Linked DNA regions of Homo sapiens. The protein of the gene in region 1 interacts with the protein of each later gene in a pairwise test. Each region holds a gene or a part of one and is shown on either strand. Other genes may lie near its edges.

Region 1 (4,876 bases):
GGAGGATCAATCTATTATGACTTAAATTGTGCTTATCCTCTTATGTCATCAAACAGACTATCTTTTAGAATACAGTTTTCACCACATACAGCTCCAAATTGGCTGTCTACATAAAGTAAATTAACATACTATCTACTAAATAAGCTTATTTTAATATAAACAATGATTAAAACTTGTGTGTATTTCTTAAGAATATAGCCAGTAGATTATTTTATAAATATGAACAATAAATGTTTTGTGCCATATTGGGTGGCGAAGGAGGATTTGCTTTACACTTAATGAATTTTAAGTTGGGTGTTTACTTTTTTGTCAGTATAGAAAGCTGTCTGAGTTTTCTAATGGTCCGTTTCTCCATTTTCAACCCTGACTGCTCTGTTGGTATTCCTGATTTTGAAATGATAAGCAATCTTCAATGTTCTGTAAGAAAAATATATTTGAGGTCACTTTTCTACCTTACTTTGGACAGGAAAATAGAAGGGAAGATACGTTATAAGGAAATTGTATGAGAATTTTTTATTCTTCTTATATTTCTTATATAAAAGTATATATATTCTTCAGAGGAGAAAAATACAGATATATCTCTTGAGTATCAGAAAAGGATTAATTTATTAGTATCACTAATTTTAAGCAAAACAAATATTAAGACTTTATGTTATGTAAATTATATATCGACATATAATAGTATGCTTTTATATTATTATATATAACAATATAATTATTCATTTAATTAAGTCTTATTGTCGAACATATTTTCAAGCATATTTACCTTCTTATTACACACTCTTTACATAGGGAATTGCCCTCAGAAAATTTTAAAAAATCATATTTATTAAAGATACAACCTTTAAGTCTGATGGTTTTATATGTCTTTATAGCTGAAAATAATATAACAATTATTGAATCTTTACAATCTGTTAGGCTCTGTAGCAGGTATTATATATACATACAGCAGTGAATAGAAGAGTTGAAGTTCCTGCCATCATGGAGCTCACAAACATGGGGTAGAGAGTCATTGCCTATGGAAAGGAACAAATTAATAAGAAATAATAAAATTCAAAGTCCTATAAAGCATGAAGAGAGCTGGGATAAAGAATTATGGAGGAGAGAGGGGTGGGGAGAGGGATCTAATTAGATAAAGTAGTCAGGGTGGGCAACACTGGGATCCACAGGTTGAGAGATGACAGGTAAGAAGGATGCAGAGATTTTAAGAGCAGGTAGAAAAAGCAATGTGTGTGCAGAGACCTTGAGGTGGAAAAAATATTGTCCCATTGGGAGAAAAAAAAGAGGCATAGAAATTTTAAGCACATTGTCAAGTAGAATATAGTGTGATATGCTTGAAAACAGAATAAAGAATAGCTCCACATTTTGTGTTTTGGGGAAGGGTAATACACATTTTTGAAATGTAGGGTTTTAAAAAATCCTTTATTAAGTAGTAATTTATTTAATGTAAAGATTATTGAGTTGGAGCCCTACACCCACACTCTTTCCTATCTCCATCACCCCTACCCCTATAGAAGAGTGATGTTTATACCAGTTGACTTACTCTTGTGAAGGACAGAAATTTGCAAGATGGCTATTAATGGTGTGGTAGGCAGCATGACTGCAACCCACCTTTCCAGATTCAGCTCCATCTACCCTCCACCGACCTCCACAGATTTCAAACACAATACAATGCCACACACCCCGCAAATTAGTCATATGCTTTCAAATCCTTATCCTTTTGTTTGTGCTTTACTGTGTGTCTAGCATCTTCTCCTCACTTCTACATTCACCTGTTGAAATTATGAAATTATTCTCATTTTGAAAAGCTGAGAGAAAATGCCATCTCCTCTGAGAAGCCTTCATTTATTGGATACAATTAAAAATAATTCTCCTGTGGTATTTCATACGTCACTGTTGTTGTTTATATATACCTGATAATAATTAATTAAGTATACATATTCAGCTGATTGTAGGGAAGAAGCAAAGTCTGTGTTTTCTGCATCTTCATAGGCTCTCAAATCTTGAGAGTGTTTGCCATACACTGGGTTCTCCTCATTGCCCTTGGATTGGAGTGAAATAAGGAAGGTTAATAGGCCCAAGCTAAAAAAGAAAGTATCCTTGAACCAGAGTGATCTAACTAGATAATTTTAGACATAAAAATACTTTTCAAATTTTATACCTTTTTTACTTTCCCTAAATAAATATAATTATATCTTTTTTTAAGAGAATTAGAGGGATTACATATTTGTGGGTTATTTATAAGAATGCAAGAACATAAACAACCTCATTTTAAAGCTTAACTAATATATGAACAAAGATATTTACATATATTGATTTAGCCAAAGAAAGGGGAATTTACAAGGAAATCAACAGTTTGCAAATAGTTTTATTATTTGGAATCTTAACAAAAATGAAAACTAAAGTAGCCACTGACTACAATGGTGTATAATGAACATTGTATCCCCAAAAGTGTTATGTTTTTATTATGAATTTTTCAATCAAACAAGAACCATAATTGTTCACAGGATAATAACCTTTCTAAATCTTTGGCATGGCTGCTAATGCAGTTGTTTCTTGAGATTTACTTTTTTGGGGCTGTGATCATGAGAGCTATGGTATTATGTGCCATGTATGCTTAATCAGCAGGTGCCTGGGCTTCTTACTAACATTTTAACTAAAATAAATTACAGTATGTATAAGGAATGGAAAGTGAGGTACTTAAAATGTGTTTTCAAGTTAATGCATAATATAAAAAGCAGAAATGCATGTACACCTATAGAAATAAACTGCTTTGCTCCAGTGTGATAGTGAAATCCATCAGTTATTCTAAGAAAAGTGTCCTTCCTTCTTACAAGGTGCTATGTAAGGAAACAAGTGTCTACCGTCTCAGAAAATAATCCACAGCAAATAGTCATCAAAAAAAAAAAAAAACACTGTTTTTGTGCGCTACTGTTTTAGTGTCATTACCATGTGCTCATACAAAGACCACATGCTTGTTTGTTTTGGCTGTTTTGGCTAAACTAAAACAAGGGAACATTTTTCTTCAAAGCACTTTTTATTTTTTGGAAGATATTTTCTCTTTGGTGTTGGTTTTCTAAGGCCATACCCATTGGAGTCTTACTACATATTAATACCTGTTGCTAACTTTTTGATAATTATAATTTTATTATTTGTTAGTTGTATTAAGGTTAGATCAAATTATGGTCTTCTAAATTAAAATGTTGAGTTTTGTTTTGTTTTGTTTTTAACAAGGGACATACTATAAATGCAATTTCTAAGCAGGGAATCTTATGAGAATATTACCAGATTGGTCAATGAAATAATGTTAGAGACAAAAAAGGCATTCATTGTTTATGCATTTTCCTCCTGTGGCTTAATTGTTATGATTTCACAGTCCATATTTGCTATAGGTTTCTGAAAATGTTTAATACCTCAGTAGTTCAATAAGTAAAGTGTAAAATAGTGTAACAGATTAGGTATAATGTAATTAAACATAAAGAAGATGGTTTGCTTTGGGTTTAGTTATATCCATAGATTGAGTTGAGTTTACATATATTAATAATCTATGGCCAACTGTCTGGTGAAGAAATCCTGTGACCTTTCCTAACAAGATTTCAGATACACAAAACCTTCTGTCCCAAAGTTACCGTAATCAATTACGGGCTTCACTTCACATTTTGAATTTGAATACTTTTACATTTAGCCCCAAACTTGTGATTTTTGTTAGTAATTCCATTCTCTATGATGTTACTGTGAGAACAAGTATTTTCAAACCCAACAAGAACCTCCCTTCTCTTTGGTGTAAAGTTACGTCTTCTAAATTTTATTTATTTAAATTTTTTTAAATGGTAGAAATTTAAAAGGAAAGGTTTCTAAATATGATTTATCCACTTAGTTATGGAATTCTATATTTTTCTTAGATATAATTTATATTAATGTCTCCCCAAATGTTGAGAAACTTTAGCCAAAGAGGACTATGATATTTAGATAATACAAATGTTATATAATATTTCAAATATTGTTTTAGCACCCAACAACTAAAACACACACACACACACACACACACACACACACACACACACACACACACACACACACGAATCCAAATCTCTAAGAGACCATTTCAGAGACGTCAATGCAATTTAAAGCCAGTTACAGTGTTTGCATTAGAAAACAACTAATTTCATAGTTTTGGTCTATAATGGTCCAGCATTCAATTTAAGAAACTCAGATCACATGAAAATGTCACCATTTGCTGTTTACTGGGGTGACAGTATACCAGTAGGCATGCGTAGAAATGCAGACACAGTGTCTACACCATTTTATGATAGGTACTACTTTGTCATTCAGAAAAATGTCTCCTTTCATAAAATTAAATTTTGTAATTTATTTTGTGGAATGTATGTTTCTCCCTATGATTTTATGGTTTTTGATATTGGGATTGATAGGAACCCATACGGCATCACCATAGGGAAGGGCCACTTCAAAGTCATTGTCTCACCAGTGCCTGGCATACAGCTAACACTTCAGAAGTATTTGTTGAGTGAATGAAACATACCACATTTGTCAGGACATATATGCAGCAGAAGCATAGAATACAATTGAGATAAATGAACGCATAGCAATGGCTATAATTGGATAATTATTATTATTATTATTTTGGTCTGATTTACTTTTTATTTTATTTATTTTTTTATACTTTATGTTTTAGGGTACATGTGCACAAAGCGCAGGTTTGTTACATATGTATACATGTGCCGTGTTGGTGTGCTGCACCCAGTAACTCGTCATTTAACATTAGGTATATCTCCTAATGCTATCCCTCCCCCCTACCCCCACCCCACAACAGGCCCTCGTGTGTGATGTTCCCCTTCCTGTGTCCATGTGTTCTCCT
Region 2 (5,554 bases), on another chromosome or scaffold:
GAAAGAAACGGCCTCCGTGTTTTCTGTCTTAAGGCCTGGATCTGAGTTCATATGCTTTCCTCCTCCTTTCCCCAGCCTTCCGAGCGCTCAGTGCGGCTTCAGCCTTTGTTCAGTTGTTTTTGAGGAGGCAAACCTCTGAATGCAGACTCAGACTTGGAGATCCTGCTCTGGGTACCATCGCCTCTATGTGCCCAGCCAGGTGGAGAATCCTTTTGAGCCATAGGGCCTTGGCAGCTCTTGCTTCTTTCTCTCCTATTGAATATATATACATATAGGTATATATAGTTGTGTGTGTGTATACAATTAAAGAACAATTAAAAATTTCAATTATACACCAAATTTGCTTCTGGGAAAGGGAGTTGAAATGTTGAATATTCAGTGTTAGTGATTTAGTGGTTTTGCTAATTCTTCCTCTAGCTAAAAGCTAGTTTCCACCTCCACCAGCTAGGAGCTTGTTTTTGCAAGAAAATGAGTAGCAAGCAGGCCCTGAATTTCCTGGACTAAGCTAGAGGTTCAGATGGACTAGGGAGTTTTGAGGCCCCATTTCCCAAGGGAGTCTGCTGGGCGCCTGGTAAACCTGCTGGTATCAAGGATTTAGCAGGACATAGCCGGTTCCAGAGAAGTCAGACCAAAATTCGGTGGAGACAGACGTTTTGTTTTGACATCTGAAGAACCTCAAATCTTTACAGACCCCGAATACCAGCAAGCTTTAAAATTTGAGAATTTAGGCTAAGTGTGGAAGTCCCAGCTTGCAACAAGCTGAGAGTCCCCTTAATGTGTGAGACACACTCAGATCTGCCATGGTCCTTCCCTTTTGGATATTCCAAACATATTTGGTTTGTAGGCTTTTACACACCATTTCCTGACTGCCTCGGAAGCCATTTTCTCATTTAACGAACAGTCAACACTCGCGGTGAAACAATAACCAGAAAAGAAAAACGAATTTGGTGGCCTGAAAAACATTAAGGTGGAATCCAAAACATTTTGAAAAATTGACTTCAGCTCCTTGACAGCTTGGCTCAGACCTGGATATTTATTTTCACTCAAAACATTTGTATATATTGTGTCTGATATATACAAGCTACTGTTTTTGACAAAATCAAAACAAAACATGCATGATAACTATTAGATAGCCTAGAAAATGAAATTAGTTTAAATATCAACTGAAGTCAGTTGGGCTAAGGCTCAGGGCTCTCTGTGAGGGGCCCACTCCAGATTTAGGGCCAGGTCCTGCACTGAAAAGAAATCACTGGACTTTGGGAAGGAATCCTGAATCCTTGAGTTGTTGTGCATCATGCTAGGAATTGCGAAGGAGGAGTGCTACATGTCAGAAGGAGAGGGGAGAAGAGGCAGGGATAGTGGAATGAGCTCGCAGGGGGAGGCTTGGTTCACTGAGATTAAGGCGGGACACTCCAGTACACCCAGAACAACTCCACCTGGCATTTGGGAACCCCTGCCTCCATGAGGCAAGCCTGGCAGGGCCCAGGGCCTTAAAGTCTCCACTGGGACAGGCCAGACATGCCTCAGAAGGGGCACAGTAGCTGGGCCTCTGGTAGAGTTGGCAGATGGTAGAGACGGTGAGAGGAACTTCTGGTCCTCTTTGCTTTGTCAAGAGCAGCTAGCGGGGCAGAGAATCTAAGAGACTTCCTTCCCCTCCCCTTGACTCTTGAGAAGGATTTTTGCCTATCCTTATGGGGTTCCATTAAGGTAATTGAAGAAAGAAAGATGCACCAACACCTTTACTCACCTCAACTGGAAAGCCATATTTACAGTTGGAGTGCAGCACCCCTCCTCCTCTTATTCACTCCCTTCTCCTCCCCTGGATATTTTTCCCTCTCCCTGTGCAACAGAGCTTCAAAGCAGACCAACAGCTCCTTTCACCAGAGCTAGCCTCTGGGGATCCAGTTACAGGGTTCATAGGCCTGGCCTAGGCATGTTTGAGAAGGTGGGAGTAGGGCAATGTTTGCCAGTCTTGTCTGGAGATGGCACTTGTCTGGAGTCCCAGTCTCTCTCATCCCATCTCAGGAAATGAAGGTTCCACATATTCTACCCAGCTGGAAATAGGCCAGCCTATTTCGCATTTCTCATTTCGAGATATCTCCAAGTTTACCCCACTACCCAGCCCCTCCCCTTCCCTCCCTTTTCCTCCCAAAGTCTGAAGATCTAGTGTGGCTTTTGTTCTCTCAAATCAGCCAGGGCAGACAGGAGGGTGGAGGGTGGATGGTGCCCTTTCCTTTCTCCAGAGTGAAGATCCTGGCCTTGCCACAAAGGGCTTCTGCTGCAGAGACCTAATTGTACCCACAGTCCTTTCCATTCCCTCAGGAGGCCTTCCACTCTGAGCCCTAACTAGGCGACTGCTATACGCTGAAGGGGCTGGAGAGAGGGGGAAAGGGAGAACGAATTGGGTGGAAACAGAAAAATCCAGGTACCGGGGAGCAAGAATGAGCGGTGGGTGCAAATGCCCCAGCCAGGAGCAAGGAGAGTTGGCCTCAGTCCCCCAACGTGGAAGCCTTAAGGCCAGCCAGAGTTGCACTGGTACTTCCGCACGTTTCTCACGGGCTTCTCAGGGACTGAGGAAAGCAAGGAGGCCCAACTGGCCTGGTCTGTAAATCTCTTGGTGGCTTCTGGGGCCAGCAGAGAAGGAACCGAAGGAAAAGCCTTAGCCTTAGCCCCAGATCCCCCTCCCCAAACAAGGCCTCTGTCCAAAAGGGCAGATCCAACCCGGCCCTGGCCACGCGCGCGGCTAGTAGAGCGCCAGCGCCTGCTCCCGAAGCACCACGCGCTTCTTCTTCATACGCCTGTTCTGGAACCAGATTTTGACTTGCTGGTCGCTGAGGTTCAGCCTATTGGACAATTCCTTGCGTTTCTGCCTGTTGATGAATTCGTTGACGAGGAATTCGTTCTCCAACTCCGCAATCTGCTGCTTCGTGTAGGGTTTCCGCTTCTTGCGGGCCCTCCCCGGGGCCGCCCCCCACGGCAGGCCTGCAACACAGCCCCAACCCACGTCAACCCAGCCCGTACTCTGTCTATTGCCCGCCCCCAGGCGGTTCACCTCCCCTTACACTCTCCCTTGAACCCCACCTCCCATCCCGGCCCAAACCGGCCCGGGGAGCATGGGCACCGTTTACCGTCGGGCAGTGAAGGTCGCAGGCAAGAGGCAACGCCCGCCGCCTGCACTGTCATGTTCAAGTTGAGCGGGCCCTTGGTGTCGTCCTTGAAGCCAGGGGCGCAGGGAGCCCCCTGGAGCAGGGTCGTGGAGCCCGGCGTGGCACGACCCACACCAGCGTAGTCATACTTGGCCGCTTTGAGAGCAGCCACTGCAGGAGCCAGGCTAGACTCGGGGGCGAAGGACGGCCGGGTACGACCGCGCTCCTCTGGCCCAGCGGCCGCTTCGGGCGCATAGAACTTAGCCTGCTCTTCGGGTCCGTCTTTGGCTGTTGGGGGCTGCAGGCCGAGAGGCCCGGAGCCAGCCAGGTAGGGCTGCGAGAAGCCGCCGAAGGCAGTGGCGCCCGCAGGCTGCGCGGGGGCGCAGGAGGCGGGCGTGGCGGCCCAGGGCAGCGCGCCGCGCGGGTAGGAGATAGGGGGAAGCGCGGCCAACTGGCCGCCATTCGGCCTCAGGTTGGAGAAGTAGAAAGAGTCTGGCGACTGCAGATTCAGAAGCGAGCCCACATAGCCCGCTCTGTAGAGACTGCGCTCACACATCTCCAACAAAGGGCTTCGGCTGCGCTCGCAACAGTATTTAGTTACAACCGGGAATAAGAGGACAGGCTCAGACGATTGGACGAAACTTTGCCTGCAGGTTCTTCAAAGCCGGTCATTTCAGCACCGCCTACATCCCCCCGACCCGTTTTCCCCCCCTTCAGAGTATTATGATAACACCCGCAATGTTCGATGGCGAAGGACGAGGCTGCCAGCAGAGCCAAATCAGGTTGAGCGAAGACTAACTGTCTGCGGGTTTCCAGGCCCGGCTTCAGCAGCTGGGGACATCGGGCAAGAGGGTGACTCTGCCCAAGTGTCCCCTGGGACTCTTCTTGGTCGTGATTGGCTTTGCGATTCGTTTTCCGCAGGCTTTCTGGGCCCGGCTTGCTTCTACCGGCTTTAAGTTGCAGCGGAGGCATTTTCCATTAACCGGCGCCTCTCGACTTATCCGGAGAGGGCGCGGTCCGGCGGCACCAGGAGCTCTGTCCCTTGGCCTGAGCAATGTCACTTTTACCCCAATCACTCCCACAGAGAGGGTTTCTCCAGAGACCTCTGCCTGAGGATCTGGCAGCAAAGACCCATTCGCTACTTGAGCCCTCAGTCCCAGGCCGCAGACACAAAAAGGGCATCACAAACTACCCAATTTTGGGATCCAGGAAGGAGGCCACACTATTTCTGGTTTGTGTCCCCATGGCTAAGAACTCTGATCATAGGGAAATTGCCATACAGGTCCATGGAGAATGTCCGCCAGGGAACCCATCAGCTCGATCCACCAATCGTGGCCAAAGGCTACATTCCTTTTATCTTCAGGAGTCCTCTCCAGGACTACACACTGCAAACCAGAACTCCGAGGTGTCCCCATCCACCAAGTGGAGGGCAAAGCAGGACGAACTCCCCCGACTGGGTGTGGAAAGGCAGAAGAGCCAGAACCACCTGGCCGGGGAACAGCGGGCGTTCGGAGGCAGCTGGCTAGCAGAGTTCCTTGCCTCAGCGCCCCCAGGGGTGCCGGGGATAGGGAGTTCACGGGTCTGACAAACAGGGAAGTGGGAAAGGCAGCAGTTCTTAGCCGGGAGCGGTGTGCTCAGACCCCGTCGCTGGCCCTCTTGCCTAGTCCGGCCAGAGGACTAGGGGTCCTCCCCTCCTGCCTCTGATCCCAAGACCCTGGGAGACCCGGTGACCGGCGCCAGTCTCAGCCTGCAGCAGGACCCTCGGTCTCCGAGCCAAGCTGGAATTGGTTAGATCGCGGGCTCCTGCACTGAGACCACACAGGCGCCGCCGGAGGGCAAGACTGACCGCCGCGCTGCCACTTTATTGTGTGAGTTATGGCGACCAATTGGGTGGCTCTGGGGAACGCAATCGGCCTCTTCCTCCTGCTCTGGTGGGGGGGAGAGAGGGAGTGAGGACGGGGGGGTGGGGATGTCTGGGGCTCCTCTGGCTCTGCCAGAGAGTTTCCTTAGGAGCCCAGGCATAGAGACTCACTCGCTCTCGTCCTCTCTTGGGAGGTGGGGGCAAGCACAAACTGCAATCCCAGTTCCTAGATACTCAAGGGAATACAAGCCTCAGATCCCTAAGAGCTCTTATTTTGGGGAACCCATCCTATTTTCGAGGAGCTGCAGCTTCGTTACTCCCGAAAGCTCCAGCTCCAGGGGTCCCTGCAGTCTCTCCTCACGTTTCAGTGCACGACGATTCCTCGTTATTTCCAAGCCGAGGGGTGTCTCTTTCGGACCTTTAGGCAGCCCTACAACAGCTGTTTGCGCCTCAGGACTAAAGGCATAAAAGAACTCAGTGAAAAACAGGAAAAACAAGAACAACTAGGTTCCCTCCATTGCTCCTTGGACAGTCTTCCCACTTCATC
Region 3 (4,876 bases), on another chromosome or scaffold:
AACCCTGCATTTGAGAAAGGCATAGGTATATAAGCCAGCTGAGCTCTGTGGGGTGCAGGTGGAGAAACTGAGGCCCAGACGGGTGCAGGAGTGTGGCCTGGTCACAACAATTCATTGGCTGAGGCCAGAATTTGATCCTCGAGTCTTGGGTCCCCAACCTTTGGCCCAGTGTTTTTTGTTTGTTTGTTTGTTTGTTTCTTGAGACAGAGTCTCACTCTGTCACCCAGGCTGGAGTGCAGTGGTGTGATCTCAGCTCACCACCGCAACCTCCTCCTCCTGGGTTCAAGCGATTGTCCTGCCTCAACCTCCCAAGTAGCTGGGACTACAGGTGCGAGCCACCACACCCAGTTAATTTTTGTATTTTTAGTAGAGATGTGGTTAGCCATATTGGCCAGGCTGGTCTCGAACTCCTGACCTCAAGTGATCTGCCCGCCTCAGTCTCCCCATGTGCTGAGATTACAGGCCTGAGCCACCGTGCCCGGCTTGGCCCAGTGTTGAAACCTCCTCCCATAGAACCTCCATGGGTCCCAGTTTTCCTCAGAGTAAAGTGGAATCCTAGTCACAGCCCTTGGGGCCTTGAGTTGTCTGGTCTTCCCCCTCCTGCTATCACTTCTCCCACCTCACTTTCTGCTTCTCTCCATCCCACGTGGCATTCTCCCTTTCTGCTGTCTAGCCAGGCTCTCTCCACCTCAGGGCCTTTGCGTAGGCATTGCCGACTGTCTGAGATGTTCCTGACAGGCAGCACGTGGAGGTGACATGCCTCTTGTCCATCTACCTTACTCAAAGGTGGAGATTTGGTCTGTCTTGCTCACTGCCGGATCTCCAGCCTTGCAAACAGGGCCAGGTACATAGTAGGTGCTCAGTAAAAGTCCTGGCAGAGGCCAGGCACAATGGCTCATTCCTGTAATCCCAGCACTTGGGATTACAGGAGGCCAAGGCAGGAGGATCGCATGAGCCCAGACATTTGCGACGAGCCCAGGCAACATAGGGAGACCCCCTTCTCTACCCAAAATATACAAAAATTAGCTGGGTGTGGGGGCGCGGGCCTGTCGTCCCAGTTGCTCAGGAGGCTGAGGATGGCTTGAGCCCCGAAGGTCAAGGCTGCAGTGAGCCTTGATCACACCACTGCACTCCAGCCTTGGCAGCAGAGCAAGACCCTGTGTCAAAAACAAAACACGAGAACAGAAAAAAAAGTTCTGGCAGAACATAGGGGTGAATCTGGCTTGCACAGACTTGACCTTCATTCTCACCCCCTTTTCTGTTCATCCTCACAGCCTCACCCCTAGGTGGGGCTTTCAGGACCTTTTAGCAGTTAACGAAGGAAACTGAGGCACAGATACTGGCTCACCTGCTGTGTTTCTGAAAAGCCTGAGGTGGGGCTCCCTCCAGCTGGGATTTATTAAGGACATACTGTGTGCGGAGTTCTGCAGAGAAATATGAAGAGGGAGAAGATGCAGTTCCTGTTTTTGAAGGCTTTGTTCTCAACCTGGGGGTAGTATCCTCCTGGGGGCAGCAGGAGTGGCTGCTTGTGTAGCTTCATACAAGTTTGGACCTGCTGGTTGAAGGTGATAGAAACCCACTCAAACAGGTTCAAGCAGAAAGGAGGGATCGATAGCTCATGGAACTGCCAAGTTTGGATTAGCTGGCTTCAGGCATAGCTGGATCCAGGCACTCACAATATTGTGGGGATGCTGTTTCTCTGCTCTGACCTTCCCTCCTGGGCCGGCTCCTCTCTCAGGGTGACCATGATGCTCCCCCCTCCCCCCTGGAAAGTTACAGATTTCCATCTTCTACCCCCTCCTTTTTTTTTTTTTTTTGAGACAGAGTCTTGCTCTGTCACCCAGGCTGGAGTGCAGTGGCACGATCTTGGCTCACTGCAACCTCTGCCTCCTGGGTTCAAGCGAGCACATCCAGCCTTTTTTTGTATTTTTAGTATAGACGGGGTTTCACCATGTTGGCCAGGCTGGTCTTGAACTCCTGACCTCAAGTGATCCACCTGCCTTGACCTCCCAAAGTGCTGGGATTATAGGCGTGAGCCACTTCGCCCAGCTCCATCTTCTCCCCTTAGCAACCCATCTCCCATCAGCACCAGCATAGTGCAGGCTGGATCTCATTGACTCATTTGGGTCATGTGCCTGGTCCTGAATCATTCACTATGGCCAAAGCTTTGGAAACATCAGGGCCAGGTGTGGTGCCTCACGCCTGTAATCTCAGCACTTCAGGAGGCCAAGGTAGGAGGATCATTTGAGCCCAGGAATTCAAGACCAGTCTTGGCAGCATAGTGAGACCCCATTGCTACAAAAATTTAAAAAATAATTAAGGGCTGGGCGTGGTGGCTCACGCCTATAATCCCAGCACTTTGGGAGACCGAGGCAGGTGGATTGGTTGAGCCCAGGAGTTCGAAACCATCCTGGGGAACATGGCCCTGTCTCTAAAATAAAATAAATAAATAAGTAGGCCTGGAGCGGTGGCTCATGCCTGTAATACCAGCACTTTGGGAGGCTGAGGCAGGTGGATCACTTGAGGTCAGGAGTTTGAGACCAGCCTGGCCAACATGGTAAAACCCTGTCTCTACTAAAAATACAAAAATTAGCCGGTGGTGGTAGGTGCCTGTAATCCCAGTTACTCGGGAGGCTGAGGCAGGAGAATGGCGTGAACCCGGGAGGCAGAGCTTGCATTGAGCCAAGATCGTGCCACTGCACTCCAGCCTGGGCGAGAGTGAGACTCCATCTCAAAATAATAATAATAACAATAGTAATAATAATTTTATAAATAAATACATAAATAAATAATTCGTTGGACATGGTAGTACACGCCTGTAGTCCCAGCTCCTCGGGAGGCTGAGGCTGGAGGATTGTGTGAGCCTAGGAGTTTGAGGCTGCAGTGAGCTATGATCATGCCATTGCACTCCAGCCTGGGTGACCGATCAAGACCCTGTCTCTAAAGGAAAGAGAAAAAAAAAACAACAACCTCTGGAAGCATCCATTCGGCCTCTCGCCAGTGGAGGTGGTGAGGGAGGAGGCAGCGAGGTGGGTGCCTAGATCTGCAGCTGAGACAGGAAGGAGGAGCATGTTGCGGGGACCAATGCCAAGCTAAGTGTGCACTGATGGAGTTTGAGGGCTAGGAGAGCAGTTTGGGAGTGGCTGGAACCCAGGGATGTTGCCAGAGCTCCATTTGGCACTTGTATGAGTAGCCAGGAGCCTGGCTGTTTTTTTTGTTTGTTTGTTTGTTTTTGAGACGGAGTCTCGCTCTGTCGCCCAGGCTGGACTGCAGTGGCGTGATCTCGGCTCACTGCAAGTGCTGCCTCCTGGGTTCACGCCATTCTCCTGCCTCAGCCTCCCGAGTAGCTGGGACTACAGGCGCCCGCCACCATGCCCGGCTAATTTTTTTGTATTTTTTAGTAGAGACGGAGTTTCACCATGTTAGCCAGGATGGTCTTGACGTCCTGACCTCTTGATCCGCCTGCCTTGACCTCCCAAAGTGCTGGGATTACAGGTGTGAGCCACCGCGCCCAGCCTTTTTTTTTTTTTTTGAGATGGAGTCTCACTCTGTCGCCCAGGCTGGAGTGCAGTGGCACGATCTCGGCTCACTGCAAGCTCCGCCTCCCGGGTTCACGCCATTCTCCTGCCTCAGCCTCCCGAGTAGCTGGGACTATCAGGCGCCCGCCACCTCGCCCAGCTAATTTTTTTTGTATTTTTAGTAGATACAGGGTTTCACCGTCTTAGCCAGGATGGTCTTGATCTCCTGACCTTGTGATCCGCCCGCCTCGGCCTCCCAAAGTGCTGGGATTACAGGCATGAGCCACTGCGCCCGACCCTTTTTTTTTTTTCTTTTTTTAAGACAGGGTTGCACTCTGTCACCCAGACTGGGGTGCAGTGGTGTGATCTCGGCTCACTGCAACTTCTGCCCCCTGGTTCAAGCAATCCTCCCACCTCAGCCTCCTGAGTAGCTAGGACTACAGGTGCATGCCACCACGCCTGGCTAATTTTTGTATTTTTTGGTAGAGACGGGGTTTCTCCATGTTGGCCAGGCTGTTTTTATTTTATTTTATTTTTTGAGATGGAGTCTTGCTCTGTTGCTCAAGCTGGAGTGCAGTGACACCATCTTGGCTCACTGCAACCTCCTGGGCTGGATTTCTTGAAGGACAGGCCCAGGTATGGGTCCAGAGTGATGCCACCCCCTTCCCCTTACAGGTGCTGGCCCAGCAGGGGGAGTACAGTGAGGCCATCCCCATCCTGAGGGCAGCCCTGAAGCTGGAACCTTCCAACAAGGTGAGCAGGACAGGGGTGCCCTGGGACTTGCTCGGCTGGGAAGTCCCTCCTGCGGTCTGCCCCAGGTCTTTCTTGCTGTGGCTCTCTGTTGTGTTCCCACCTGGGCAGTGGCACGGAGTAGGTACCTGAAGGGTCCTGGTCAGCTTGTGAAGACCCTCATGACGGCCACACAGGCAGTCTGGGCTCTCACTCCTCCAGCAGCTGAGGGCACTGCCAGCCTGCTCCATGCCAGTGTCCTTGGCCTTCCTTCCAGAACCTTTTGTCTCCTGGCTACCTTGTGCTCTGCGCCATCAATTGGCTCCCTAGGAGGGATGGGGTCAGCAGCCCTGACTTTGCTAAGCCCAGAAAGGGGCAGATGGGACCCCTGTGTCCCAACAGTCCCACCACCCAAACAGCCTAGGGTCCCAGTAAGGCAGAGCGCCAGTGATGACAGGTTGGCCGCTGCGTGTTCTCAGCTTCCCCTGCCTTCTGCAGACGATCCACGCAGAGCTCTCAAAGCTGGTGAAGAAGCATGCGGCGCAGCGGAGCACGGAGACCGCCTTGTACCGGAAAATGCTGGGCAACCCCAGCCGGCTGCCTGCTAAGTGCCCTGGCAAGGGTGCCTG

The links. The genes of interacting proteins can lie anywhere in the genome.
Region 2: the proteins of FGF14 (region 1) and HOXD12 interact in binary tests that used the Homo sapiens proteins (3 or more experiments, as listed by UniProt).
Region 3: the proteins of FGF14 (region 1) and FKBP8 interact in binary tests that used the Homo sapiens proteins (3 or more experiments, as listed by UniProt).

Annotation. Positions count from the first base shown.
Region 1 is NC_000013.11:101,910,042-101,914,917, reverse strand, and holds part of FGF14 (fibroblast growth factor 14), read left to right. Parts: intron 1-4,876. UniProt on the Homo sapiens protein: Probably involved in nervous system development and function.
Region 2 is NC_000002.12:176,097,950-176,103,503, reverse strand, and holds HOXD12 (homeobox protein Hox-D12), read right to left. Parts: upstream 3,710-5,554; 5' UTR 3,703-3,709; coding exon 3,129-3,702; intron 2,983-3,128; coding exon 2,744-2,982; 3' UTR 1,015-2,743; downstream 1-1,014. UniProt on the Homo sapiens protein: Sequence-specific transcription factor which is part of a developmental regulatory system that provides cells with specific positional identities on the anterior-posterior axis.
Region 3 is NC_000019.10:18,532,665-18,537,540, reverse strand, and holds part of FKBP8 (peptidyl-prolyl cis-trans isomerase FKBP8), read left to right. Parts: intron 1-4,193; coding exon 4,194-4,271; intron 4,272-4,745; coding exon 4,746-4,876. UniProt on the Homo sapiens protein: Constitutively inactive PPiase, which becomes active when bound to calmodulin and calcium. Seems to act as a chaperone for BCL2, targets it to the mitochondria and modulates its phosphorylation state.